Homo sapiens: one gene and its partners. The protein of the gene in region 4 interacts with the protein of the main gene of each other region in a pairwise test. Each region holds a gene or a part of one and is shown on either strand. Other genes may lie near its edges. The genes, in order: TRIML2, POU2F1, CSTPP1 and ZFHX3.

Region 1 (7,588 bases), on a different chromosome or scaffold from region 4:
TGTGAGTAAGGGCTGCGTGCACACACATCTGTATTGGCTTAAACATACATAACAGGGGGCAAAGAATCAACTGTCTCTTGAGAGGAATCCTGCTTCAGCAGAAGAATATCATGGCCTTGCCTAATTATGTCTGTTCCTGGGGTAGCAGGCAGAAAAGCAGGGTTTTTTTTTTTTTGGTTTTGGTTTTGGTTTTTTTTTTTGATTTGGAGTCTTGCTCTGTCATTCAGGCTGGAGTGCAGTGGCACGATCTTGGCTCACTGCAACGTCTGCCTCCCAGGTTCAAGCGATTCTCCTGCCTCAGCCTCCTGAGTAGCTGGGATTACAGGCACCCGCCACCACGCCTGGCTAATTTTTGTACTTCTAGTGGAGACTGGGTTTCACCATGTTGGCCAGGCTGGTCTCAAACCCTGACCTCATGATCCGCCGGCCTTGGCCACCCAAAGTGCTGGGATTACAGGCGTGAGCCACTGCGCCCAACCGAAAAGCAGGTTTTTAAAAACATGGTTGAATTAATCTATAGGAGAAGTTACCGAACTCTTGTTCCTGAACTTGAGGTTGTTGAATAGTAACGAAGAAATGCTTCTGCAGAGACTGGGCCGTGTGGGGAGAGAGAACATGGAGAAACTGAAGGAGAGTGAAGCCAGGGCTTCTGAACAGGTCCGCAGCCTCCTAAAGCTCATCGTGGAGCTTGAGAAAAAGTGTGGGGAAGGCACCTTGGCATTGCTCAAGGTAAGATGCTGGGAAAAAGAAAATAAAATTCATTCCAGTATTTGAGAAATGAGAAGTGGACAGTACTCATTAGGGGTTGCTGTCAGAACACAATATCCAATGATCTTCAACCACAAAAGAAGGCTACATGACTTTCTTTCAGCTGCCAAAAGCTTTAGGAATGGTCATAGCTTTGTGGGATAGTGTGGAGCTGCTTCATGAGATGAATTCTCACCTTAAAATTATCAGCAGTAAGTTAGGGTTGAGATGTGACACAATGTGGTTAATACCTCCATGCAATGAAATATTCTGTGATCATAAAGAATAAAACAGCTCTATAGGCACTAACAGTATTTCAAGCACTCATTAAGTGAAAAAGAAAGATGCAGACTGCTTTTTGTTTGATCTTTGGATAATAAGTATATATACACACACATATACATGTGTGGTTGCTAACATTCACAGACTTTCTGGCAAAAAATTAATAAATGTATAGTCATCTGTGATAATCTTGAAACAAGGGTGAGATTATCTGCTATGATCTGAATGTTTGTGTCCCTCCAAAATATATATGTTGAAATCCTCTCCCCCAAGGCGATGGTATTGGGAGGTGGGGCCTTTGGGTAGTGAGTGGGGCCTGGGGGCAGAGCCCCTGTGAATGGGATTAGGGCTCTTATAAAAGAGGCCGAGGAAGACCTCACCCCTTCAGCTTGTGAGGCTGGAGATGGAGGCTACCTAGGAGGGATGGAGCCCTCACCGGACACTGAATCTGCCAGTGCCTTGATCTTGAAATTCGGCCTCCAGAACTGCGAGAAATGAATTTCTGCTGTGCAGAAGCTACTCAGTCTATGGTAAGTATTGCATATTTTGAATTTTGTATAGTAACATACGTTGCCTTTCAGAAAGTGGGTTACCTTTTTTTTTTTTTTTTTCCCCGAGACGGAGTCTCGCTCTATCTCCCAGGCTGGAGCAGTGGCGCAATTTCGGCTCACTGTAACCTCCGCCTCCCCAGTTCAAGCGATTCTCCTGCCTCAGCCTCCTGAGTAGTTGGGATTACAGGCGCCCACCACCATGTCCAGCTAATTTTTGTATTTTTAGTAGAAACGGGGTTTCACCATGTTGGTCAGTCTGGTCTTAAACTCCCGACCTCAGGTTATACGCCCACCTTGGCCTCCCAAAGTGCTGGGATTACAGGCATGAGCCACCGCGCCTGGCCTTACTATCTTTTTAAGACTGTCCATATCCCTCTCCTGGGCTTATAATTGCAATGAATGCGCTCATCTGGAAAGCGTCTGTAGGTAAATCCTTAGGAAGCAGCTCAGTTCTTGAGCATGCAGGCAGGTGTGGCTCTGCCTGGCTCCCACTGCCCTCCCAGCCAGTGGCCCCTTCACCTGCTGAACTCTGGCCACCCCCTGCATGGAAAGCAGATAGATGCTCCCGTCTGAAGACTGAGAAATGATGGCTCTGAGTAAGATGCCTGGGGTGAGGGATAGAAAACCTTTCCCTTGGGACTACGACAAAATGATTTCATGCATTTTTCTGACTTTTTCTGTTTCCATGTTAGAATTTGTTCATCTGATAACTAGCATTATGAGGTTGAAGAAATGACATGGAAATTGAGTTCATTGTAAGAGGATATTTTCCTGGGCACAGATTGCAAAAACAGCTCAAAAACCCAGTAGTAACCTGGTCTCTTTTCTTTCCCTTAGAATGCAAAATACTCTTTAGAAAGGTGAGTTTTCATTTTGGATACAATTGGGTGAGAATCAGAGTCCAGTAAGATGTTGATTGAGATAGGGAGATTGCATTTGCTGGTAGGATGTAATGGGATCCATCCAGTAGACTAAGGGGCCTGTGGTCTGTGCAGATGACTGAGGCTGTCCTTTCTCTTCAGGAGCAAGTCACTGCTGCTTGAGCATCTGGAGCCCGCTCATATCACAGACCTGAGTTTATGCCACATAAGAGGACTCAGCAGCATGTTCAGAGTACTCCAGAGTAAGTTGACACATGTGAATACTCACAGGGCACTGTTCTGCATTTGAGAATCAGGTGACCATCCTGCCATAAATGAAAACAAATTCCAGTAGTTTAACAATTTTAGGCCAGCACAGTGGGTCACTCCTGTAATCCCAGCACTTTGGGAGGCCAAGGCGGGCGGTTTGCTTGAGGCCAGGAGTTCGAGACCAGCCTAACCAACATGGTGAAATCCCATCTCTACAAAAAATACGAAAATTAGCCAGTTGTGGTGGCGTGTGCCTGTAGTCCCTGCTACTTGAGTGGCTGAGGTGGGAGAATTGCTTGAACCCAGGAGGTGGAGATTGCAGTGAGCTGAGATCACACCACTGCACCCCAGCCTGGGCAACAGAATGAGACTCTGTCTTAAAATAAATAAATAAAAATTTTAGGAGACTGGAGAGCTTAATATGTTATACATATTAGATAAGGATCAAAAAAATAACTGTATGATCTCATATGAAAGCTCTTCCCATGCAAAATCTTTTTTTTTTTTTTTTTTTTTTTTTTTTTTGAGACAGAGTTTCACTTTGCCCAGGCTGGAGTGCAGTGGTGCGATCTTGGCTCACTGCAACCTCCCCCTCCTGGGTTCAAGTGATTCTCCTGCCTCGGCCTCCCAAGTAGCTGGGATTACAGGCATGCACCACCACACCTGGCTAATTTTTTGTATAGTAGAGATGAGGTCTTACCATGTTGGTCAGGATGGTCTTGAACTCCTGATCTCAGGTGATCCACGCGCCTTGGGCTCCCAAAGTGCTGGGATTATAGGCGTGAGCCACCACGCCTGGCTAATTTTTTGTATTTATGGTAGAGACGAGGTCTTACCATGTTGGTCAGGCTGGTCTTGAACTCCTGATCTCAGGTGATCCACGCGCCTCAGGCTCCCAAAGTGCTGGGATTACAGGCGTGAGCCACCACGCCTGGCTGCAGATTCTTTACCAGTTCCCCAGCCATGAAACATGATTGCAGGCAGATTCCACTGCTTAAAAATTTAAAACTTCTGGGGAAGAAATTCAGCATGTATAACAAAGGGTTTATATCTCCTGTCCTTATAGCTTTGCCTTTCCCAGAATGTCCTATCGATGGAATCCTACAGTGTGTGGCCTTTCGAGGCTGACAGCATACTGCAGTTGACATATAGAACGTCCAGGCTGCTTCGTGTATCAGTAGTTTGTTCCTTTTTATTGTTGATAATATTCCATTGTATAAATATACCATAATTTACTTATCCTTTTGCAATTCTACGGACATGGGTTGTTTCCAGCTCTGTGCTGTAAATATTAGCAGCAGATTTTTGTGTGGGCACAGCTTCATAGTTCTTGATTGACTGTCTAAGGGTGGGATTGCCAAACTTGTTTTCCAAATTGCCTGTGCCATTTTGCCTTCCCACCAATAACGTGCGAAAGATTCAGTTACTCTGTATTCTCACCAGGGTTTGGTATTGTCAGTTTGTTTTACTACATCCGACCCGATAGATGGGTAGTGGTATGTCATTTTAATTTGCATTTCCAGAATGACTAATGATGCTGAGCATATTTTCATGTGTTTGTTTTCCCTCTATCTCAACTTTGGTGAAATACATGTACAAACCCCTTTTCTAAATTGGGTTGTATGTCTCTTGAGTTTTATAATTTCTTTATATGTTCTGTTTAGCATTCATTTATCAGATAAATTTTGCAAATATTTCCTCCCAGCATGGTTTGTATTCTCATTTTCCTAATACTGTCTTTTGAAGTGTAGAGGTTTTGCATTTTGATGAAGTTCAATTTATCAAGTTTTTTCTTTTATGACTTCTGCTTTTTGTGTCTTATTTAAGAAATTTTGCCAAAGCCAACAAAGATTTCCTTCCAAAAGTTTTATGGTTTTCGGTTTTACATTGTGGCCTATGAACCACTGAGAGTTAATATCTGTATACAGTTCACAGAATGGTGCAAACCCTCTCCTCCCCCCACCTTCTATTTTTATTTTTTGACTCACATGTATCCATTTGTTCCAGTTTCATTTGTTAAAAACACTACCTTTGTCCATTCAATTTACTTGGCCCCTTTGTTGAAAATCAACTGGTATATGCGATCACGTCTATTTGTGACTCTAATAGGTCTATTGATGGTTGACTCTTTCCCTTTGCCAATAGCACACTGGCTTGATTGATAACTCTGTAGGAAGTCTTGAAAGCAGGTACTGTGCATTCTCCAAATTTATTCTTTTTCAGAATAGTTTTGGCTACTGTAGGTTGTTTGCTTTTCCACATAAATTTTGAAATCAGCTTGTTGGCTTCTTCAAAATGGACCGCTGGGATTTTTATTCATATTACATTGAATCCGTTGATCAGTTTGGGGAGAATTGACATCTTGACAATATTTGGTGCTTTCAGTCCAGGAATACAAAATATCTCCATTTATTTAGGTCTTCGATTTCTCTCATCAGTGTTTTGTCACTTTCAGCATAAAATGTTATATGTATTTGGAGATGTATCCCTAAGTATTTTATGTTTTTTACAGCCACTGTAAACGGTATTTTAAAATATCAATTTCTAATTGACATTTCATTCATTTCTAGTTCATTGCAAGTATATAGAAATGGAATTGTTTTATATATATTGACATTTGTACCCTATAACTATGCAAAACTCACTCATTAGACAGTGGATTTCTATAAATAGATCCTTCAGGATTTTCTACAAAGTCATGCAGTATATGAGTATAGATAGCTTTATTTCTGCCTTTCCAGTCTGTAAGCCTTTTCTGAATTTTTCTTGCCTTATTATACTGGCTCAGACCTGCAGTGTGTTGAACAGAAGTGGTGAGAGTGGACACTTGCTTATTCTCGATCTTAGGAAGAAAGAAAACATTAAGTCTTTTCACTCTAAATTCTGATACAGCTATAGCGCTTTTTGTTGTTGTTTTGTGTTTTTTGTTTTTGTTTTTGTTTTTGTTTTTGTTTTTGTTTTTTGAGATGCTGTCTGGCTCTGTCACCCAGGCTGGAGTGCAATGGCGAAGCCTCAGCTCACCGCAACCTCCTCCTCCCAGATTCAAACGATTCTCCTGCCTCAACCTCCCGAGTAGCTGAGTGCCACCACACTCAGCTAATTTTTGTATTTTTAGTAGATACGGGGTTTCACTCTGTTGGTCAGGCTGGTCTCGAACTCCCAACCTCGTGATCTGCCTGCCTCAGGTTCCCAAAGTGCTGGGATTAAAGGCGTGAGCCACCGCACCTGGCCCTAGCTATAGTTTTTTTTAATGGCTGCCTTTCATCAAATTGAGGATGTCCCCCTTTATTTCTGGTTTACTAAGAATTTTTATGAATCAATGTTGAATTTATCAAGTTCTTTTTCTCTTGAGATACTCCTGTTGTTTCTTCAACCTTTTTTGTTTTTGTTTTTGAGATGAGCCTCGCTCTGTTGCTCAGGCTGGAGGGCAGTGGCATGATCTCGGCTCACTGCAACCTCTGCCTCCCAGATGCAAGCGATGCTCCTGCCTCACCCTCCTGAGTAGCTGGGATTACAGGCCGCCACCAGGCCTGGCTGATTTTTGTAATTTTAGTAGAGATGGGGTTTCGCCAGGCTGGTCTCAAAGTCCTGGCCTCAAGTGATCCGTCCTCCTCGGCCTCCTAAAATGCTGGGATTACAAGCGTGAGCCACCGTGCCCAGCCACAGCTGTGCGTTTTTCCAGAGATAATTTGCATTTGTTTCTGCCAGTCTCCTGGAAATACTGAGAGTCTCAGACAATTTTTTAAAAATTCAAGACGTGTAGCTGTTGAGACCACCCTAATAATGTGAATTGGGCTTCAAATTCAGAGATTTAAGTTCATTAAATTTACTTCAGTCAAATAATAGAAATTAAGCTGGATTCCACATTACAGAAAGTAGGAAATAAAGGCCTTCCAGGTTTATGGCTTAGACAACTGAAGCAATGAGGGAGCTGTGAACTGAGAAGTAGAGACTGCAGAGGGCTGGCGTTGAAGTTCCATTTTGGGTGTGTTATGTTTGAAATTCCTGTGTTTTTTCCAACTGGTATTTAGCTGTTTATGGAGCGAGTCACAAACACAGAGAAGATGTTTAAAACTGAAGCTATGCACAGTTACCTGGGGGCAGTGAAGGAGAATATACTACTTGAAAGAAGAAGTCCCAGGACCAAGCCCTGAAAGATCACAATAGTTAGAGGCTGGGCAGAAAGAGATGAGAGGAACAGTCAGAGATAGGAAGAAGACGTATTCATGCAGGTGTGAGGAATTCATTGAGCCTGCGTGTTCTCAGCGTGAGTTTCTGGAGGGTCCACACAGGTGTTCCATCCTCCGCTGATAAATTATCTGATGTAATGCCTGATGTCCAGGGCCTGTTGTCAGCAATTTCCAGGCCTCTATGTCACCCTGTGGGGATATTTAAGATGTGTAGAGTACGGCATCGGGAGGGCCACGAATGAGTTGCTGCTGGCCGACTCCTGTGGCCGCTCCAGGCTTGGAGATCTAGAAGACCAGGGTTGGGCCCCAAGTGATATCTGGATGGAACTTGGCACCAGGACAGTTTGACCGTCTCTGGGGTGAAGCTGTTTTTTGTTTGTTTGTTTGTTTGTTTGTTTGTTTTGAGATGGAGTCTTGCTCTGTCGCCCAGGCTGGAGTGCAGTGGTGTGATCTCGGCTCACTGCAATCTCCGCCTCCTGGGTTCAAGCAATTTTCTGCCTCAGCCTCATGAGTAGCTGGGATTACAGGCGCCTGCCACCACACTCGGCTACTTTTTGTATTTTTTTAGTAGAGATGGGGTTTCACCATCTTGACCAGGCTGGTCTTGAACTCCTGACCTCGTGAGCCACCGCGCCACGTTGGATGAAGGTGTTTCTAAACCTTCCTTAGCTCATTCATCTTTGTTTTA
Region 2 (7,588 bases), on a different chromosome or scaffold from region 4:
AAAAGTCTACTTTCAAAGTTGTATGTGTAAGTTCAGTAAAAATGTTTCTAAGTTATACTGCTATAACACATACCTAAACACACAGCCTGAAAGTTCTCTTAAATGCCAGTTTGTTTCCAAAAGACTTGTTATTTATCATTTTTGATGTCTTAGGGAGACCTTATAGGGAAGAGGAAAGAACACTGGACTGAGACACAAGGGTCTTAGGTTTGCATTCTCATTCTGCCACTGACTAGCTGTGTGACCTTTGGCAAGTCACATAACCTCCTTGGGTTCAGTTTTTCTCATCTGTACTTAAGTGGGGACATTTATAAGATTGCCAGGGTTCCTCTCCATCCTAAAATGTTAGGCTTCTAATAATTGTAATTAAACCTGTTTGTAGATGTTGGTGGATAGACAATCAAAATCTTAAAACTTAAATCTGGCCACTTTCCTTCTTTGAACCATATGGCACAACATGCAAAGTTCAAGTGTTAGACATTGCCCTCTTAATATTTCTATCAACCTGCTGGTTCCTTTCATTATAGTGTTTAGGTAACTAGCAGTCAAGAGGGAAAGACAGTATTATGGAAGATTGATTTCAGTGTTGCTAATGACTAAAGACCTTGGGTTGAGCATTTCATGAAACCCAGTTGAATATGGACCTAGTAACACGTAGGAACAAGGAGAGAAAAGAAAAAGAGATAATGTGACCTTACTTTCTGAGGGAGAGGAGGCGGAAAATTGCCTTGGTTGCCATGGTAAACTTTCATCCCTTAGAGAGATGTTGGCAAACAGGCTGTATCTCCAGTGCAGAATGTTTACAGTCCTGCACTGTAATTATCTCTCAATGACTGGCAGAATTAATCAGAGCATTTATGTTAATTAGCCTTGCTGCAGTCCCCAAAACAGGTGGTGAGAAATATGCAAATCTATGCAGAATTTTAATGCTTTGCATAACCAGTTTTAATTACCGTAAAATTTTCTCTTCGTGCCCCTCTCTCTTGACTGCAGCATTTTCTCTCTGAGCTTGTGTGTTAGTTGATGGGAGTTGCTAGATTTACCGTTCTGTAAAATATTAGGTGGAAAGTTCTGTGGATCAAGTGATCATTCTCTGAGATGGTATATGGAGAAGTTTCAGACTGACCACCAGGTGTATGTTAAAATATTGGTTTGGAAGGTCTAATGTAGAGGTGAATTGAAAATATATTCTTCCCTTTACCCCCTATTTCTAGAGTTGAGGAATTGGGGGCTATGAAAAAAATCTATAAATTTGTGGGGGATGACTTTATTTTTAAAAATTGTAATAGCAGCTTTGCTGGCATTAGAATTAACAAGTTTAAAAACTTGGTATGTGAAACTAGGAAAATACAAATAAAAGAAAGGAGGTAAACCAGAACTCATGACTGAATAAGCTCATGTTTTAAATGATTCCTAAAAGATGGGGTTTTAAGTACATTTCTTTTAATCAACCATTTGCAATCTTTTATTTCCTACCCACCCCACCTCAGTCTAAATCTAATGAAGAATCGGGGGATTCGCAGCAGCCAAGCCAGCCTTCCCAGCAGCCTTCAGTGCAGGCAGCCATTCCCCAGACCCAGCTTATGCTAGCTGGAGGACAGATAACTGGGGTAAGTGTTCACTGAGAGAATTATAACAAACTTTTTCTGTGTCAGAACTGCCATTGGCCAATAGCTGATTAGAATTGTTCACCATAGCTGGTAGTAACATGGCTATGCCTGGCACTATTGTGTCTTTAAGGAACTTCCTACACTGTAGGTAGTAAGTTGCTCTGAAAAAGGAATTATCTTTGTCGTAAGTTTTCAGGATATCTTTTATTAGAATTGTGGATGCTCTGGATAAATTAAAAACCTTATTAAACCCCTGTTTCAGGTGTTGCTTCATCATGCAATGGAGTAATTATCATATGGTTGAGATCATTACACTGAAAATGGCAGTTATCCATTTGGCATTAAGACATCACTGCAGGGTAGAAGTTAAAGAATGGATTAGTACCTGCAAAAGAAAAACATTTTTCTTTAAGTTACTGTGTAATGATCTAAAATAAAGCATGTGGCTTCATATCCTAGCTCTGCAACTTACCGTATGGCCTAATTACTTCATTTCCCTCTACCTGTTTTCCTTCTGTTAAATGGAGATACTAATAATACCTATCTCACATTACTGTTGTAAAGATTGGAGATAATACATGTAAAACTTATAGAACGGTGCTTGGCATGTAGCATTCAACAAATATTGTTTATTTTTGTACTTGATCTTAGCCAAAAGGCTGAGACGTTCTGTCATTTATTTTTTATGGTTAATAAATTGGCCTGTTTGGCTATATTAAGCTTTTAAGTTTTCAGCTGTCTTTTCTCTAAGGCACCATTCAAAATATTTTTCCAATGTTGAAAATTTGTGTATTAAATTATCTTTGTGGGGGTTGGTTTAGGGCAATGGTAAGGAATAGTTTTTATTCAATTCACATCACATTAACTCCCAAGAATTTCCTAGGGTTTTTTGTTTTCTTTCTTTCTTTCTTTCTTTTTTTCCCAGTTAAGTGTGTTTTGTCAGTGGACAACTGTTTTAAGAACTGTTGCAAAATTGTTCACAAAATCCCATGAGTAGAGATGTATGTATATATATATTATGTAAAAATTAAAAATATATCTATACTTTATATACACACATATCCCTTGAAGGGTATTGAGTTTTTGAATGGTTTGGTTTTGAGCCTTATGTTTCTAATGCACAAATTGTGTTTGATTCTTTTAGAGGAGGTTGTGGCACTAAGTGACTGTACATATACTTCAGAAAATTATGGTTCCATCTTGTTTGATCAATCAGAACTTGTCACCAAAAGAAAAGTAGAACACATTTACTACTTTAAGTGTGTTTGAAATAAGTTGCATTATGAAAACAACTTTAAATATGCTCTAAATACATTTCCTACTTTACTATTTGGGTCTTGTTTTTGGTGACTAGTGTCTACAATAGTAAGAGGGAGTTGGGATTCTAGGTTCCTTTGGCTGGAGCTTCTGTTAAACCTGGGCATTAGGGTTCATTTGCATGTAAAGAGAACGGCTATCACCACCTGTTTCATAGAGATAATGTGTTGGAAAGGAGATGTAAAGTTGCAGAGACTCAGTGCTTTCAATAACAGAAAAGATTGTGTTAGGGAGGGGCCTGTAGGGAGACTTGGAAAAGAAACAAATGGAGCTCATATTCTTTAGTCATATCTTTGGACTTAATGGAAATGATGGAATATGGCAGGGATTCATGCTAATGGGAAGCAGCTGGGCCTTATCAGTTCTTTCCTTGGTTATATCCAGCATCCTTGTTCCTCATTCATCTGACTAATCACTTGCTGTTTGGTTGTGTGTAAATGTATTTTCATATCTTGTCAGTGGTGATTCTTTTTTTTTTTTCTTGCTTACTAGTTAATTACTTTTTTGCCCAAACCCTAGGGCCCTGGACAAGCTTGAATGATTAAGTCCATAGTGGGGACCACCATTTTAATTTAAATGTTCTGCTAGTAATGGTAGTTTGATCACTGATGAACATTTTAGCTGTCTGCTAAGCAAGTGAAGTTGGGTAGCTGGGGACTGATATCATTTGAGTTACCTATTTTAAAGCAGTTGGCTTGCATTAGGAGACTTTCTCCTTCAACACTTTCCCATAATGTGTTCTGGTTTTGTTTAGCTTACTTTGACGCCTGCCCAGCAACAGTTACTACTCCAGCAGGCACAGGCACAGGCACAGCTGCTGGCTGCTGCAGTGCAGCAGCACTCCGCCAGCCAGCAGCACAGTGCTGCTGGAGCCACCATCTCCGCCTCTGCTGCCACGCCCATGACGCAGATCCCCCTGTCTCAGCCCATACAGATCGCACAGGTGAGTGAGGAACTCCAATAGCTGGGGCAGCAAGTGAGGAATAAAGTGGCAGGTTTTATTTAATGTTAGATTAACTTTTTGATTGTTAGTGTGGGGCCTTAACTGCCTGAGGAGCTCTAGATCAGTGAGGTAAGCGGTACCCTTCCTTACCACTGAATTAGAAATAATGTTTGTTTGCTTATTGTAGTTGATATTGTAAACATATAGCTGATTATTTGAATAACTGACTTTATATTAAGTGACAATTCTTGAATAATTAGCTGGCATATTTTTGAAGCAGGGGATTACTGTATTTATTTTAATTAGCTAATTACAGCAGACATGGATTTTTTTTCATGTGCTCTGCGGTGAATGTTGCCACCCATGTGTGAGACAGTGAGTCATCTCTGCTATGGAGTGATTAACATTATTGCATTAGAATGTTGTTTGGTTTCAATTTTCACATTTTAGGGCAAAGTATCTAGAGATAATAAAAATTTATTTAAGAAGCGCCAGGCGCGGTGGCTCACGCCTGTAATCCCAGCACTTTGGGAGGCCGAGGCGGGCGGATCACTAGGTCAGGAGTTCGAGACCATACTGGCTAACACGGTGAAACCCCATCTCTACTAAAAATACAAAAAATTAGCCAGGTGTGGTGGCAGGTGCCTGTAATCCCAGCTACGCGGGAGGTTGAGGCAGGAGAATAGCGTGAACCCAGGAGGTGGAGCTTGCAGTGAGCCGAGATCGCGCCACTAAAAAAAAAAAAAATTAAGAAGCATACACAATAGTACCAAGGAGGAAAATAAATAAAATCTTTAATCTCAAGAAGAGGAAAAAGGTATAAGTAGATATATCAGTAAAATATATGAAGAGTTATTATGAGTCTAATTGTTAGACAGCTGTCTTTATCCGTCTCAGAAAAGACTCAGAAATGGACTTAACTTGTAGCAAGAGTTTGACTAACCATTTAAAAAGAACTAATTAACTGTAAGAGTAGAGAATAAATATCAGACTAGTCTTTATACAATCTTTATCAAGATAATGTTTTGATTTTGGCCACTTTCTCATCACCAAATAAATGTTTTTAGTGCCTAAGCTGTGAGACCCTATATTAACATTAGTCTAAATAAGATAACGTTCATGAAAACACTTTGAAAATTATAAAACAGTAGGCCAATGTAAGGTGCTATTGTTGTTAGGGATTAAATTTTTATATGGATAGCTATTTTTGGTTTTAAAAAATTGAATACTTTAGAACATGTGGAAAAGGGCAAAAAAATTGAATACTGATTTTTCAGTTGAGTTAGATAAGCTGTTGTCAAATGTCATAAGTCATTATAGGCCCTTTATTGATGGAAATTCAGACATAACACGATCAATTTTTATTTAAGAGAAAGATCAATCAAATATTTAAAAACTGTTTTCTCACTTGATTTTTAAAACCCATATTGGTCTTTACATGATAAAAAACAGAAGTATATTTGTTCTGAGGGAATTTTAAAGAAACATTGAAAATTAGGCTTATCATAACAATATATGTCAGTCCACAAAAATAGTCAGTTGCAGAGGCTCCAGGTTGCTTCACGTGCTTTGTCAAGCACACACAGAGCATACCCTGTTTGGAATATGAAAGCATGCGAAGTATTTACTCTTCTTTATTTGGATGTGACAGAAGTCATCAGCTGGAAGCCTTATAATTAAGCGAACTTTTATTTCAGAATCTCCAATCCATGTTTTAATTCCAATTTTTCAGGATCTTCAACAACTGCAACAGCTTCAACAGCAGAATCTCAACCTGCAACAGTTTGTGTTGGTGCATCCAACCACCAATTTGCAGCCAGCGCAGTTTATCATCTCACAGACGCCCCAGGGCCAGCAGGGTGAGCTCCTCCTTAGAGCTTATTAGTGGTATACCAAGGCTGTTCGCTGAATGTTACACATGCATGAACTACTATCATTTTGGCCCTGAAACTATTAGACCAATGTTTTTATTAAATTTTATTTGATTATAAACTTTCGTTTAAAAAAAGTTTTGTTTTGTTTTTTGTCATAAATACCACATTATTGAAGGTTGCCCTGAACTGCCATTCATCTGCTTAATCACTAAGGAAGAACCAAGAGTTTGGCCAAAAGTCTAAGTGAAATTATTCAACATGCCAAACATAAATTGGATAAGTTGCTGCTAGTGTTTTGATTGTTTTTCATGGAAGTGTATTCAAAGAATATAGACTGAGTGTTGAAAGTATGTGCTTCTAACCATTGTTTTTTTAATTTAAGGAGGGAAGACTGCTATAATAGAAACTACAAATTTCGTGAGTTATAAAAAACATCTTTGAGTCATTTGAGTGGTAAATGTTATATAATTAATATATCAAACAACCACTCGTCTGTAAGGTCAGTTAATGTAATCAGGGTGAAGAATGTCAGAGTATCAAGGCTTCAACCCAAGGAACATTAGTGCATCACTAATGATTCTTTATTATTTCTGAGTGGGTTTTTTTGCCTTTTTTCTTCTTGATCATTCATTCCAAAATCTTTTGTCATGAAATAATTATTCTAGCATATATTCAAGATTCAGAGATAAGTAATTCAGTATTTACTTGCAGAGGGCTCACAATTTAGTGGCAGGGAAACAGACCTAAATTATGTTAGATTTGATATGCACACAATGCTATGGGAACCAAGCAAAGAGACCCCTGTAACTTTGTGCTCAGATAAGTCTTCACAGTGAATTTGGGAAAATACATTCATAGGCTTACAAAAGAGAGAATGTCAGTCTTGGAAAATGAACAGCATTTGCAAACCTTAGAAACATGGAAGAAAAATCAATAAGCTGTGTTTGAGAACTATAAGTAGTGCCTTACAACTGCAGAATAAGTTTGCATATGCAGGTAATAGTGAAATTTGAACCCAGAAAGATTAGCAGAGACCAGATCATTAAAGAACCTTAGATTAAGTTTCCAGGAGTTTGACCTTAAATCCTATAGCTTAGTGCTTCCTAAGATTTGATTTATTTAAGAGTCATTAATGGCCAGGCGTGGTGGCTGACGCCTGTAATCCCAGCACTTTGTGAGGCCGAGGCAGGCAGATCACGAGGTCAGGAGATCGAGACCATCCTAGCTAACACAGTGAAACCCCATCTCTACTAAAAATACAAAAAAAATAGCCAGGCGTGGTGGCAGGCGCCTGTAGTCCCAGCTACTCAGGAGGCTGAGGCAGGAGAATGGTGTGAACTGGGAAGGCAGAGCTTGCAGTGAGCCAAGATTGAACCACTGCACTCCAGCCTGGGTGACAGAGTGAGACTCCGTCTAAAAAATAAAAAAATTAAAAAATCACTTGAGGAATTAGAAAAGTTTCCTGAGCCCTAACCCCAACCTCCCAATTACTTTTTTTCTTATTTTTAAACTATTAGGTTCAGGGTTACACTCAGGTTTGTTATGTAGATAAACTACATGTCATAGGGATTTGATGTACAGATAATTTCATCACCCAGGTAATAGGCATAATACCTGATAGGTAGTTTTTTCGATTCTCATCCTCCTCCCACCCTCTACCCTCAAGTAGGCCCTGGTGGCTGTTGTTCCCTTCTTTGTGTACATATGTACTGAAAGTTTTATGGCTGTATAGTATTCCGTTGTGTATATGCACCACATTTTTTTTAATCCAGTCTAGTGTTGATGGATATTTAGGTTGATTCCATGTCTTTGCTATTGTGAATAGTGCTGCAATTAACATACGC
Region 3 (7,425 bases), on a different chromosome or scaffold from region 4:
AGATGTATTAAATGAAAAAGTATGCACTGTATACTCCTTTATGTATATAATAAACTCTGGAAAGATACACAGGAAAACAATAATAGTGGTTACTTTTGGGAGGCTGAGGATGGATGGAAACTGGGCAGATGGAGGCAAAGGGGTAGGCTTTTCACTAAAAACATCTACCTATCTATCTATCTATCTATCTATCTATCTATCTATCTATCTATGCATTTTAGAGGCAGGGTCTCACTCTATCATCCAGTCTGGTCTTGAACTCCTGACCTCAAGCAATCCTCCTACGTCAGCCTCCCAAAGTATTGGGATTACAGGCATGAGCCACCATGCCAGGCCTAAAAAATACTTTGAATCAAGTTTCCATATTACCAACCTTAAAAAATATTTTAAAATTAATTTTTAAAATAAGTTAAACAAAATGTAAACCAGAATTGTTTTTCATTTAAAAAGATGTTGGCTGGGCGCGGTGGCTCACGCCTGTAATCCAAGCAGTTTGGGAGGCCGAGGTGGGTGGATCACCTGAGGTCAGGAGTTTGAGACCAGCCTGACCAACATGGAGAAACCCATCTCTACTAAAAATACAAAATTAGCCAGGCGTGGTGGCGCATGCCTGTAATCCCAGGTACTAGGGAGGCTGAGGCAGGAGAATCACTTGAACCCAGGAGGCGGAGGTTGGGGTGAGCCCAGATCGCATCATTGCACTCCAGCCTAGGCAACAAGAGTGAAACTCCATCTCAAAAAAAAAAAAAAAAAAAAAAAAAGATGTAAGCCAGGTGCAGTGACTCACACCTGTAATCTCAGTACTTTGGAAGGCCACAGTAAGAGGCTTGCTTGAGCCCTGGAGTTCAAGACCAACCTGGACAACATAGTGAGACTCTTTCTCTACAAAAAATTAAAAAATTAACCAGGGATGGTGGCATGTGCCTGTAGTCCCAGCTACTTGGAAGGCTGAGGTAGCAGGATCACTTGAGCCCGGAGGTTGAGGCTGCAGTGAGCCGTGATAGTGCCACTGCACTCCAGCCTGAGTGACAGTGCCAGACATTGTCTCAAAAAAAAAAAAAAAGAAGAAGAAAAAAAAAAAAGATGTGCATGGTACATCCATACAATGGAATATTATTCAGAAATAAAAAGAAATGAGTTATCATGCCACAGAAAGACATGGAGGAAACTTAAATGCTTACTGCTAAGTTAAAGAAGCCCATCTGAAAAATTTACACACTGTATGACTCCAACTACATGATATTCTGGAAAAGGCAAAACTTTAGAGACCATAAGATCAGTGGTTGGCAAGGGCTGCAGGGGGAGGGAGAAGGATCAATAGGTGGAGCACAGGGGATTTTTCAGGACAGTGAAACTATTCTGTATGATAATGGAATGGTGAATACATGACATGCATTTATCAAAACCCACAGAACTGAACAACACAAAGAACCCTAATGTAAACTATGGACTTTAGTTAATAATATGTATCTATAATAATATATCTATATAATAATAATAATATATAATATATTATTATATATTATAAATATATATGTTTATCCATTGTAACAAATGTACCACACTAATGCAAGATGTAAATAATAGCGGAAACTGTGAGTGAGGGAGACCCAAGGTATATGGGAACTCGCCGTACTATCTGCTCAATTTTCTGTAAACTTAAAACTTCTCGCCATGTGCAGTGGCTCACGCCTGTAATCCCAACACTTTGGGAGGCCGAGGTGGGCGGATCACCTGAGGTCAGGAGTTTGAGACCAGCCTGACCAACATGGTGAAACCCCGTCTCTACTAAAAATATAAAATTAACCTGGCGTGGTGGCGCATGCCTGTAATCTCAACTACTCGGGAGGCTGAGGCAGGAGAATCGCTTGAATCCGGGAGGCAGAGGTTGCAGTGTACTCCAGCCTGGGCAACAGGAGAGAAACTCTGTCTCAAAAAACAAAACAAAACAAAACAAAACGTCTTTAAAAAAATAAAAGTCTATGAATTATTTAAAATGTGTATTGTGGCCGGGCGCGGTGGCTCACGCCTGTAATCCAAGCACTTTTGGAGGCTGAGGCGGGCAGATCACGAGGTCAGGAGATCGAGACCATCCTGGTTAACACGGTGAAACCCCGTCTCTATTAAGTATACAAAAAAGTAGCCGGGCGAGGTGGCGGGCGCCTGTAGTCCCAGCTACCCGGGAGGCGGAGCTTGCAGTGAGCCAAGATCGCGCCACTGCACTCCAGCCCGGGCGACAGAGCTAGACTCCGTCTCAAAAATAAAATAAAATAAAATGTGTATTGTGTGCATATGTGTGTGTGTGTACATATCTATGCGTGTGTGTGCCTTTTTTCATTCATTAAATGCCTTATACACTAAAGATGCTCAACAAAGTACTACATATACAGTCTTAGCTCAAGAGCCAAGTCAATATCTCAAGTTCTGTTGGAGTGGGCAAATCCGGTTCTGATCCTAGCGCTACCATTTTCTAGCTGTGTGGCCTAACTTAACGCAAGTTACCTCTTCAGCCCCAGTTTCTCCACCTGCAAAACTGGAAGAAAACACGGTAATTCCTCCTAGGGCTGTTGAGAAATTCAAATGAAGAATGATGCATGAAAAATGCTTAGCACAGTGCCTAATGAAAAAGAAAAGCTCGAAATGTTCGCTGACTGATTTGGCACTTGAGGTTCCAAGGTTATTCTTACTCCACTACCAGCATATCAATAATACCCCAACAGGGCCCCAAATCCTCAACGCCAACCTGACCCATTTGAACACAATCCACATTGCCTGAGTTCCAGCCCCTACACTTCAAACATTCTTTACTTCCCAGGTGCTTTTTTCCTTCCTGCTCGGCCTTACAGGCTCAGGCCCTGGAACCCCCGCCTCTCCGCCCCTCCCCATACCACCCGGACCCGATCCCACTCAGACCCCGCCCCCGCCTCCTCCCAGACCCTGGCCTAATTCGTCTGCACGTCTTTCCCTCCCCAAAGTTAAAGGGGGTTCCTACCCAGATACTCGTAGTCCGGTAGGGCTAGGCGCTCCGGACTCAGCATCCTTTGACCGGGGTGGCTTCAAAGCTCCAGCTCTCCGGCTTCCGGAACCCAGGTTGCCGTCTCTCTCCGTTGCCATGGCACCCACGCGGCGGAAGGGGGACGGGAGCTGGAGGAGGTGTCACACAAACAGTCTCCGTGTCGCAAAGTGGAGCTGGCCACTCAAGTTCCGGGGGCAGTCGCTTCACGATGGTCCAGGTTTCTTTGGACTCCCATTCTTGAAGACTTGGTTTTAGAGGAATCTGAGATGAAGAATTCTTTTGAATCCGTTATGTTTCCCAGTGTCGAAGAATTACTGTCAGCCGCCCATATACGCAGTTTCTGAATTTCATAACTATCCCTGCTTTTATACACTGTTTATCCTAACTCAGTAATAGCCCCCGCCCTTTGGCCCCCATAAACACTTAGTATCCCATTAGCTATTTTTATCTCTTTGGTATTTACTATCTTAAATTGCTACAAAGTGCTTACGTATGCATATACCCTGGATGCTTCTAGAGGTCAGAGATGTGTCTTTTCTGCCTATGACGGCTGGACACACAAAAGGTACTCATTAAGTCCTCTGAACTAATTGCCATTTCTTCTCAATTCTCACTCAGTCGCCCAGGCTGGAGTGCAGTAGCGTGATCTCGGTTCATTGCAACCAGCGCCTCCCGGGTTCAAGCGATTCTCCTGCCTCAGCCTCCCAAGTAGCTGGGATTACAGGCGCCCGCCACTCCGCCTGGCTAATTTTTTGTGTTTTTAGTAGAGATGGGGTTTCACCATGTTGGCGAGGCTGGTCTGCAAACTCTTGACCTCAGGTGATCCGCCGACCTCAGGTGATCCGCCTGCCTCAGGCCTCCCAAAGTGCTGGGATTACAGGCGTGAGCCACCGCGCCCAGGCTCAATTCCTTTTTATCTTTGGTTCTTCTTTCTATTCCTAGCCCTTACTATTTGGTACCTTTCCCAGGTGTCTTTCCTTTTTCCTACCAAGACATTGCTCTTCTTGAGGGAGAGGGGCTGCAGAAACGAGGACACCAGTTAGATTTTTTTCCCTATATGCCCAATTGCTCACTTCTTCTTTAAGAGAATATTCACTGGTTTTCAAGTTCCTAAATATTTCTTTTCGCCCCTCTCCACTCCTGACAACAGGTCAGAGATCTGTAGCACTAGACACAGTTCAGACATAGCAGAAAAAGCCACTCTGTCCTCACTTTTTTAGTGCCCTCCCCCTCCAACAAGGTGAGGTTTGTGAAAAAGAGACAAAGAAAACAAAATCAAGCTATCAAAGGAATGACTGGGAAACCAGTAGACCACCTACACTGGGAGGAAAAGGAAAGAGGAGGTTCTTCTCTTTGTGTTCCGAGTGGCCTATTCTTAGCGTCCTCCAGTAAGGAGCCTCAAACCTCCTAATTCTTGCTTTCCCTTAAAATTGTATATGTGTCTCAATTCTAGGCTCCTGTGAGTCACTCTAAGTTTGGATGTGGTGAGGTTAAAAGGACAGAGCCAAAGTAGGAGCAGGGCTTAGTGTCTTGAGGCAAATTTACTAATTTGGTATTTGGTGTGAAGTCCAGCAAATCTGATTTTTTTTTAATTGCCTTCTTATCTGCTTCCCCCATCTAGCTTGAGGTTATGGGAGGTTCATATGTTCCATAACTGTGGCTTTTTACTATTTTATTAATAAGGTAATACCATAGTAATTATTAAGTGATAATTTTACTTTATTCCCAAGCAACTTGTAGCTATTTGCAAATAATCTTATTTGTCCTCATAAAAACTTTCTGCTGAGGTGGGCGGATCACGAGTTCAGGAGTTCGAGACCAGCCTGGCCAATATGGAGAAACCCCATCTCTACTAAAAATACAAAAATTAGCCAGGCGTGGTGGCGCACGCCTGTAATCCCAGCTACTCAGGAGGCTGAGGCAGAAGAATCACTTGAACCGGGGAGGCAGAAGTTGCAGTGAGCCAAGATCGCACCACTGCACTCCAGCCTGGGCGACACAGCGAGACTCCGTCTCAAAAAAAAAAAAAAAAAAAAAAAAAAAACCTTTCTAAGGCACTTTTCCATTTTCTAACTAGGGAAACTGAGGCACAAGTCACAACAGTGACTTGTCTAGTGACTTGTCTAGCATCATGCAGCCACATAGTGGTAGAGCTACAACTGGATCTCAGCTATCCCAACATCCAGGCCAGTGGTCTGACCACTAAACCACACAGTCTCTTTTTTTAGGGTTTGTTGACCTGGCTTTTATTTATTTATTTTTCCTTTTGCTCTGCCCTGCTAGCAACTGGAAGCTCCCAGATAGAAGAAGATAATGTTGAGTCCAGGCTGAACATTTGACATCGTCTTATTTGTGGAGCATTATCCTGGGACTTGGCGGGTGCTGGCTGCTGGGGTCTGTGTGGTGGAGCTGGGAACCAGCCCCAAGAATATAGCTTTGTTTGGGCATTAACCCATTTGTGGTTATAATAATGATAAGTTTCAGCACCAGTGGCGCCCGACTGTTAATGACTCAAAGAAGGCTAAATAAGAACAAGATGTCATCTCTGGAGCAATTTGTAGGTTTTTCCTACAGTTCCATCCCTTCCATAAAAATCCGAAGGACCCCTGTATTCAAAGTCAGTCTTCCACTCTGAATGTCCTGAACAGTCTATTGAGGAGGAGGACTTAGAAAAGTAGGAGGTTGCTAGAGTAAGGCTTCACAAAAATTTGAAGTTTCACCGAAATAACAGGTGGCCTTACTGGTAGTGGAATTACTGACTGTTTACATTTTTCTTCTTTATATTTTTCTATAGTCTTAAACTTTCTATAATAGGCATGTATTATAACCTGAAAACAAATAATAAATGAGTGGCCTGAAAATCTTTAAAATTTTTTAAGCAGATGTGATGACCTTCCAGACAGTGTTTGTTTTTCCCAAAAAGAAGCCACTGCTAGATTTCTCTTCTGTCACAGATTACATGATAATAGATTTTTGAAACACATTGGTTATTGGTGAAATTTTTCAATGAAACATACACTACATCAGTCTTAAGAAGAGTAGAAATATATAAGAGTTGTTAAAATTAAGTGTATTTTTTGTGACTTGAATGTGAAAGAAAGAAAAAAAATGTCAGCCTTTGATTTAAATTGACTTTTCAGGTTCTTAACTTATCATAATATATTTCTTAAAAATTTACCAAAAAAAAAAATCACCGAGGTAAATCGGTAAGTCAGAAGACAACTCCATAATCCTGAAAAGAGGCAAGTGATAAGATATTGATGATAAATAGAGCATCGGATGTTAAAGGCAGTACTACAGCATGACGACTGTAAACATCAAATTCAGAACAATAAGAAAAAAACAAGAGAGAGAATATATTGAGATGGTTTTTGTTTTTGTTTGTTTGTTTTTTGAGACAGAGGCTCACTCCATCATCCAGAAAGGAGTGGAATGGTGCAATCTCTGCTTACTGCAACCTCTGTGTCCCAGGTTCAAGCCATTCTCCTGCCTCAGCCTCCCGAGTAGTTGGGACTACAGGTGTGTGCCACCACACCCGGCTAATTTTTGTATTTTCAGTAGAGACAGGGTTTCGCCATGTTGACCAGGCTGGTCTCGAACCCCTGACTTCAAGTGATCCACCCGCCTCAGTCTCCCAAAGTGCTGGGATTACAGGTGTGAGCCACTGCACCTTTTGTTTTTTGTTTGTTTGTTTGTTTTGTTTTTTAGTATATATAAGGTCTCCCTTTGTCACCCAGGCTGGAGTGCAATGGCACAATCACAACTCACTGTAGCCTGGAATTCTTGGGCTCAAGTAATCCTCCCACCTCAGCCTCCTGAGTAGCTGGGATCACTGGTGCATGCCACCACATCCAGATAATATTTTTAATTTTGTAGAGACAAGGTCTTGCTAGGTAGCCCAGGCTGGTTTCGAATTCCTGAGCTCAAGCAATCCTCCTGCCTCAGTCTCCCAAAGTGCATGAGCCACTGCACCCAGCTGAGACATCAATTTATCAGATTATAATTTCTGATTTTATAATGAGAAAATTAATAGACATCTCTGGCTCTGCAGAAGACCTATTAAGAGATTGATAGGGAAGAAAATCCTCCCTATAATTGAAGACTATAGAAAAGCAAACGGTGAATACACTAAACAGTTTTAAACTTCAAGGAAGCAATAAGGAAAGAATAAATGCAGGCTGAATTATTGCTATAAAACAGGTTCAAGAAACTAGGACAAGCTTTTATCAACTGATCAAGCAGAAAAGATGCTAAAGGCAAAGTAGCTACTAAGAAATGCAGGTCATGAAATTCATGCTGAGCTACTAGGCTCTGCATGAAAGGCTTATCTTCCACAAGAGCACAGCAGAAACTAAGTGTGATGCCACTGTCTGGGATTCATATGTTTCAATTAAAAATGCTATTTATAG
Region 4 (7,588 bases):
GAAATGGAAAAGCCCCAGGGCTGAACGACAGCTGGTTGGGTAGCGACTAATAACTAAGAGGCAGGTGTGGAGCTGGGGCTCGCCGAGCCCAGCTGCCGTCTCGGCTTGCTGCTCAGATCCTTGATAGCAAAAACCACCAGGCACGTGGGGAACGCACTCCCTCCAGCCAGGGCCAGATAGAAGCTGCTGGAGGGGGTGTTGGCAGATCCAGAGTCTGGTCCATTCCTGCTGGAAATACCAAGCTCACGTTTTGCACCTACGTAGTTTTAGTCTGAAGTCAGCTAGAGTCACAGGCCAGGGAGCTTGACTGGTATGGGTGGAGGAGACAGGAATCTGGGGACCCATCTTTTCTTCTGTTTCATGGTGGTGAGATTAGCACTGAGCCAGTTTTTAGATTGAAGCCCCTCTGTTTTACTGCTTGTAAAATGGGACTGACGCCTCCCAGATCTGGAGAGGACTTTTCGGAGTGTGTCTAGTCCTGTACACCTGCCCTGTGAACCTCAGGGTCCTCACCCGCCTTCTTTGAACTTCTCAAACTAGAACCATGGTCAGTAAAAGCGACGGCTGCAATTGTTCTAAATCCATGAGCGTTATCCCACTTTACCGTCCTTTTTCCAGGGACATTGAACCTCCCTCTTCTCAGCCCTCCCCTGTGTTCCCCTGACCCACAGACAGTGCGCGGAGTCGGGGCTGACTTCGTGTGAGCTGTCCATAAGTGGTAGGGCTGTGGCTGTGACCTCGTAGAGGGCTGGAGAGATGACGCGTCCGTTCTCCACTGTGGCCCATCGAAGCTATGCTGGCAAAGAATGGAAATTCCCGCTAGTCTTCAGGGGCAGAGCGGTGACAATTCGAAGCCGAAGAGGGCTGTTCCTGGCCTTCTTTCCCCATATCCCTCGCTCAGGCTGTTGACCCGGCCATGCCACCCCTGTGTGCTGGACCGTGTGGGGCAGTGTCCCCAGGCCCGCCCTCCGCCCTGTGTCTCTGTGTTGTGGACAGAAGCCTCTTAGAGCGCTCCGTGCGGTAGGACCTCAGCCTCGGCCCTCCTAACCTCTTTCCTTTCTCTCTCTCTTTCCCCTCTCTCCCTCCTCCCCCCTTGCCTCTGCCCTTCAGGTCCGAGCCTCCGTACTGGGTGCAATGAAAGCTCCACGCAGGCCTTACCATGGAAGGCTGTGACTCGCCCGTCGTCTCGGGGAAGGACAATGGGTGCGGTATCCCTCAGCACCAGCAATGGACTGAACTCAACAGCACCCACCTCCCTGACAAACCCAGTAGCATGGAGCAGTCCACAGGCGAGAGCCACGGGCCCTTGGACAGCCTGAGGGCCCCCTTCAATGAGCGCCTCGCGGAGAGCACCGCGTCGGCCGGGCCCCCCTCCGAGCCCGCCAGCAAGGAGGTCACCTGCAACGAATGTTCGGCCTCCTTTGCCAGCCTCCAGACCTACATGGAGCACCACTGCCCCAGCGCGCGCCCCCCGCCACCCCTGAGAGAGGAGAGCGCCAGCGACACCGGTGAGGAGGGGGACGAGGAGAGTGACGTGGAGAACCTGGCCGGGGAGATCGTCTACCAGCCGGACGGCTCCGCGTACATTGTGGAGAGCCTGAGCCAGCTGACCCAGGGCGGGGGCGCCTGTGGGAGTGGCAGTGGCAGTGGGCCTCTCCCCTCGCTTTTCCTGAACTCTCTCCCTGGCGCGGGGGGCAAGCAAGGGGACCCTTCGTGTGCTGCACCCGTGTACCCGCAGATCATCAACACTTTCCACATAGCCTCATCCTTCGGGAAATGGTTTGAGGGCCCAGACCAGGCTTTCCCGAATACCTCAGCCCTGGCGGGGCTCAGCCCCGTCCTGCACAGCTTCCGCGTGTTTGACGTGCGACACAAAAGCAACAAGGATTACCTGAACAGCGACGGTTCTGCCAAAAGCTCCTGCGTATCCAAAGATGTTCCCAACAATGTGGACCTGTCCAAATTCGATGGCTTTGTGCTCTATGGCAAGAGGAAGCCCATCCTGATGTGTTTCTTGTGCAAACTCTCCTTTGGGTACGTCCGTTCGTTTGTGACCCACGCGGTGCATGACCATCGAATGACCCTGAGCGAAGACGAGCGGAAAATTCTTAGCAATAAGAACATCTCCGCTATCATCCAAGGGATCGGCAAAGACAAGGAACCCCTTGTAAGTTTTCTGGAACCAAAAAACAAAAACTTTCAACACCCTTTAGTTTCCACAGCTAACCTCATAGGCCCCGGACACAGTTTTTATGGTAAATTTAGTGGCATTCGAATGGAAGGGGAGGAAGCTCTCCCAGCGGGCTCCGCCGCTGGCCCCGAGCAGCCCCAGGCTGGTCTCTTGACCCCCAGCACCCTGTTGAACCTTGGCGGGCTCACCAGCTCGGTACTGAAGACCCCCATTACCTCAGTCCCCCTGGGGCCTCTGGCTTCCAGTCCTACCAAATCCTCAGAGGGCAAGGACTCTGGGGCGGCAGAAGGAGAGAAGCAGGAAGTGGGCGACGGGGATTGCTTCTCTGAGAAGGTAGAGCCAGCCGAAGAGGAGGCGGAGGAGGAAGAGGAGGAGGAAGAGGCGGAGGAGGAGGAGGAAGAAGAGGAGGAGGAAGAAGAGGAGGAGGAAGACGAGGGTTGCAAAGGACTCTTTCCAAGCGAGTTGGATGAGGAACTGGAGGACAGGCCCCATGAGGAGCCTGGGGCCGCAGCAGGTAGTAGCAGCAAAAAGGACCTTGCTCTCTCAAACCAAAGCATTTCTAACTCCCCCTTAATGCCTAACGTGCTCCAGACCCTGTCGAGGGGCACAGCTTCTACTAGTTCTAATTCTGCTTCTTCCTTTGTTGTCTTTGATGGTGCGAACAGGAGGAATCGTTTAAGCTTTAACAGTGAGGGCGTCAGGGCCAATGTGGCAGAGGGCGGCAGGAGGCTGGACTTCGCTGACGAAAGTGCCAATAAAGACAATGCCACAGCACCAGAACCAAATGAAAGCACAGAGGGTGACGATGGGGGCTTCGTTCCCCATCACCAGCACGCTGGCTCCCTCTGCGAGCTTGGGGTTGGGGAGTGCCCCTCGGGGAGTGGCGTGGAGTGCCCCAAATGCGACACGGTCCTGGGCTCCTCCCGCTCGCTGGGCGGCCACATGACCATGATGCATTCTCGTAACTCGTGTAAGACACTCAAGTGCCCCAAGTGCAACTGGCACTATAAGTACCAGCAGACCCTGGAGGCACACATGAAGGAGAAGCACCCGGAGCCGGGGGGCTCCTGTGTCTACTGCAAAAGCGGGCAGCCCCACCCCCGGCTGGCACGAGGCGAGAGCTACACGTGTGGTTACAAGCCTTTCCGCTGCGAGGTGTGTAACTACTCCACAACTACCAAAGGCAACCTCAGTATTCATATGCAGTCTGACAAGCATCTCAACAACATGCAGAACCTGCAGAATGGAGGGGGGGAGCAGGTCTTCAGCCACACTGCCGGGGCGGCGGCGGCGGCGGTGGCTGCGGCGGCGGCGGCAGCCAATATCAGTAGCTCCTGCGGGGCCCCCTCGCCGACCAAACCAAAAACCAAACCCACCTGGCGGTGCGAGGTGTGTGATTATGAGACCAACGTGGCCAGGAACCTCCGCATTCACATGACCAGTGAGAAGCACATGCATAACATGATGTTACTGCAACAGAACATGACCCAGATCCAACACAACCGCCACCTGGGCCTCGGCAGCCTGCCCTCACCCGCCGAGGCCGAGCTCTACCAATACTACCTGGCCCAGAACATGAACCTGCCCAACCTGAAGATGGACAGTGCTGCCTCGGACGCCCAGTTCATGATGAGCGGATTCCAGCTGGATCCCGCCGGGCCCATGGCCGCCATGACGCCTGCTCTAGGTGAGGATGACTACGTGTTTGTCTGTTTTCATGATAGGAGTTTAACCAGGGAGAATGGTGAATAGGGTGAGATAGTCCTGTGGATTCAGTTGACTCTGGTCTTCTCGAGTGGTTTTTGTGTAAACTGGAGTGTCTTACAATCAAGTATTCTCAAGAATCCCTTGAACTGTGTGTGTACATATGGAAGAGTTTATGCATTCAAAAGAGATATGCTTGTACTCTGGCTACGTGGGGCCAGGATTAAAATGTGAGTGTTTCCTCTAGTTTTCTGTTCCCATTCTCTCTTTCTCTGTCTCTTCTTTCAATTTGAAAAATCACTATAATCACCTAAAACTTTGGGGTTTCATCGAATATTTACTGAAACTTACAGGAAACTGTAGCTGAGGCAATCATTTCAATAAGAGGACTAGGGACAGTTACCTCAATGATTTAAGTAGAGACAATCATCTTAATAATAGGAATTCGGAACCACAGTGTACGTTATTCAGATAACTAAAGGCTGATTCTGTGCCGAGCTAGGGAACCATCCAGATAGACTTCTCAAAGTTCTCTGTATATTTATGAGGACCTCAATGAAAGAGATGTTTTTTTTTTTGCTTATTTTTGATGAGTACTTGGTGATTAGAATAGTTGGAAATTAATTGGGAATTAAATTCCCCAGTGGCACTGTTGTGAGGGGTGTGAGAGATGAAAAATGAGTAAGTTGTAAAAATTGTCCATCAAGGAAAGTTAACTTTTAATAGCAGTTAGATCCTGGTTAGCGGAGCCTTCGCTGCCAGGAAGAATGACCTCTGCTTTAGAGAAGCTGATTTGGCTCTGTTCAGGCTCCCAGTCTTACCAATTGGCTTACAATATCTAGAATAGGACCAAGAGTGTAGGATTTGGGTGCTAAAAACTTTGAGTTTTTACGTAGAACGAACCACAGCCACTTTGAGGATAGCTGCTGCTGCCAAAACAATCTACAGATGGGTTTCATGAGAACCTTCTGATAGTTGGGCCACTCGTGCCTCCACCCGGTATGCTTCAAACAGGATCCTGCCTGCGTCCCATCCCGTGACGCTGCTAATGGACTTCGTGGGACCAGTGACAATGGCCTGAATTAAGCAATATGCCATTATTGACATGGGAATAGGTTGTTCTTGGCAACAGAGTGTCAGTGAGGACTTTTTTTCCAGGATGGCTTAGATGACTGCAGGGCCAGGCCTCAGCAGTTGGCAAGTGTTTATTTGTGTGGTGTTTGAGTGCTAATTGTTGCCGATGAGTTATATTTCAAAGCATTCCATTGGTTTTTCTTGCTATGTATTCAGTTTTTAATCCTTAGTACTTTAATCTCATTTTCCATTTTGAAATATTTGCCTGTTGATCCTTTATTACCAAATGATTTGAGGGTATTTGAAACCAACTGGCTAATTGTGGATGCACAAGCACTGGTCGTCTTATTTGTCACCAGGGTGAACCATGCACACCAGGAGATGGGAGTGAGTACTCTAAGGTTTTCTTTAAGCCAGTAGGAATTAGAAGGAGTCATAGAATCTCGGGAGGTAGATCTTGGAGCAAATCAAACATAACGGAGGTGGAATGAAGACAGAACGTGGGAACGTGGGTAGGTTCATGTTGGGTCAAAGTGAGGGTTTTTTTTTTTTTTTTTTTGAGACAGAGTCTCGCTCTGTCACCCAGGCTGGAGTGAGTGGTGCCGTCTCGGCTCACTGCAACATCCACCTCCTGTGTTCAAGCGATTCTCCTGCCAGAGCCTCCCAAGTAGCTGGGATTACAGGCACCCGCCACCATGCCTGGCTAATTTTGTGTTTTTAGTAGAGATGGGGCTTCACCATCTTGGCCAGGCTGGTCTCAAACCCTTGACCTCAGGTGATCTGCCCGCCTTGGCCTCCCAAAGTGCTGGGATTACAGGCATGAGCCACTGTGCCCAGCCTAAAGTGAGGCTTTTTAATTACCTTAAGAACAGGTAACTAAGGCTTGTATTGAGAAGTAGAGAAATATTTCGCTTTCACACCAAGTGTCTGTGAGTCTTTGGGGCATCATGCACTGTCCTGGGCATTGCGGCAGATTCAGAAGGAGCAGAAGAATGAAGCCCTGTGTTGTAGACACACATGGAAGGGCCACACCATATTTCTTAGACTGGAGCTCTTCCTCCCAAAGGATTTATCCAGCTCAGTCACAAAGGGCTCTTGAATTTCCAGTGTCACTACTTGTCGGCCACGGGGAGTCCCTGGAAACCTGTGCCTTCCTTGGGCCGCGAAAACTGCTGAGAAGGTGTGAGAGCCACAAATCCTTTATGCCAGAAGCTCGAGTGGGTGTGGGGGCCATAGGAAGTGTCCAAAAGACTTGGAATTTGAGTTGTATGACCTCAGTAGGAGAAACCAACTTATGCAAATAAAAACAGCCATAACTTTCAGTTCTAGCTGTGGCTGTACTGGTTTTTTTTCCCCATGGTCCATTTATAAGATGGCTGTAGGTGTTATTAGATGTGACTGAGTTCTGCAGGGAGAAAAATGTTTTTGTGAAATACACTCCTCTTTACAAGGTGATTGTTTTCATACTTCCCTTGGCAGAGCCCTCTTTAGTATCATCAAACAGACACTGATTGTGGGGTTGCTTCTTTTCAGAAGCCTTTGAGGAAAGGCTTGGGGCTCCTTCGCCTAGTACAGTCGGATCTGCTGCTCTTTGTAGACAGCACATTAGATTTGAGGCCTTGTGAACATCCTCCCAAACCTTCCTTTCGACTCTGAAGTTTAGCATAGCACCAAGAAAGGGGTTGCTTGTCGGGGTGGCTGTGTGTTTCCCAAGTAGCCAGCCAGCCCCTGGACACCTGCACAAGGTTTAGCAGCTCCCTTCGTCTCCCTTTCATTCCAGAGTGTGCCTTTGAATCCATGCACCTTCCTGAGGATGTGCTGATGGGTGGGCTCACGTGTCAAGGTGTCAGTTCCAGTGTTAGAGTTAGGTGCATACCCAGAGATGGGGACCTGCTCCAAGACCACGTATCCAGTGTGGCTCAAGACTAAGGACCTGCCAAGTTCTTTTTTTCATTTCTTTTTTTTGAGATGGAGTTTCACTCTTGTCGCCCAGGCTGGAGTGCAATAGCGCAGTCTCGGCTCACTGCAGCCCCTGCCTCCCGGGTTCAAGCAATTCTTCTGCCTCTGCCTTCCGAGTAGCTGGGATTACAGGCATGCGCCACCATGCCTAGCTAATTTTTGTGTGTTCAGTAGAGACAGGATTTCACCACATTGGCCAGGCTGGTCTTGAACTCCTGACCTCAGGTGATCTGCCCACCTTGGCCTCCCAAAGTGCTGGGATGACAGGTGTGAGCCACTATGCCCAGCCCCAGTTTCTTATTTATAGGGGCCCTGCTCCTGTTTGTGAACTGGGTGAGATTCCCCCACTTTGTGGCAGCTGGATTAGCGGATTTGTAGGATTCTAAGCCCTGGGCTTGTTTCTCTGAGGCATAGTTCTCGAAGGGAGTTTTCACTTGCCTGTCATCCTCACTCATTTCAGCACTCTGCTGCTTCTGTCCTTTGCATTTCATTTTAACAGCCTAGAATGCTGGCCAGGCATGGTGGCTCATGCCTGTAATCCCAACACTGTGGGAGTCCAAGGATCACTTGAACCTGGGAGTTTGAGACCAGTCTGGGCAACATCTCGACAAAACATTTTTGTTTTAAGATCAGCCAGACGTAGTGGGGTGCACCTGTAGT

Evidence for each region.
Region 1: the proteins of ZFHX3 (region 4) and TRIML2 interact in binary tests that used the Homo sapiens proteins (3 or more experiments, as listed by UniProt).
Region 2: the proteins of ZFHX3 (region 4) and POU2F1 interact in binary tests that used the Homo sapiens proteins (3 or more experiments, as listed by UniProt).
Region 3: the proteins of ZFHX3 (region 4) and CSTPP1 interact in binary tests that used the Homo sapiens proteins (3 or more experiments, as listed by UniProt).

What each region holds. Positions count from the first base shown.
Region 1 is NC_000004.12:188,092,176-188,099,763, reverse strand, and holds part of TRIML2 (probable E3 ubiquitin-protein ligase TRIML2), read left to right. Parts: intron 1-588; coding exon 589-729; intron 730-1,484; coding exon of another isoform or gene 1,485-1,559; intron 1,560-2,417; coding exon 2,418-2,440; intron 2,441-2,602; coding exon 2,603-2,703; intron 2,704-6,741; coding exon of another isoform or gene 6,742-6,782; exon of another isoform or gene 6,783-6,974; intron 6,975-7,588.
Region 2 is NC_000001.11:167,370,427-167,378,014, forward strand, and holds part of POU2F1 (POU domain, class 2, transcription factor 1), read left to right. Parts: intron 1-1,490; coding exon 1,491-1,610; intron 1,611-3,681; coding exon 3,682-3,870; intron 3,871-5,602; coding exon 5,603-5,729; intron 5,730-7,588. UniProt on the Homo sapiens protein: Transcription factor that binds to the octamer motif (5'-ATTTGCAT-3') and activates the promoters of the genes for some small nuclear RNAs (snRNA) and of genes such as those for histone H2B and immunoglobulins.
Region 3 is NC_000011.10:46,932,419-46,939,843, reverse strand, and holds the start of CSTPP1 (centriolar satellite-associated tubulin polyglutamylase complex regulator 1), read right to left. Parts: upstream 3,039-7,425; coding exon 2,993-3,038; intron 1-2,992. UniProt on the Homo sapiens protein: Regulator of the tubulin polyglutamylase complex (TPGC) that controls cytoskeletal organization, nuclear shape, and cilium disassembly by balancing microtubule and actin assembly.
Region 4 is NC_000016.10:72,953,717-72,961,304, reverse strand, and holds part of ZFHX3 (zinc finger homeobox protein 3), read left to right. Parts: exon of another isoform or gene 1-1,110; 5' UTR 1,111-1,159; coding exon 1,160-3,878; intron 3,879-3,902; exon of another isoform or gene 3,903-4,058; coding exon of another isoform or gene 4,059-4,125; intron 4,126-7,588.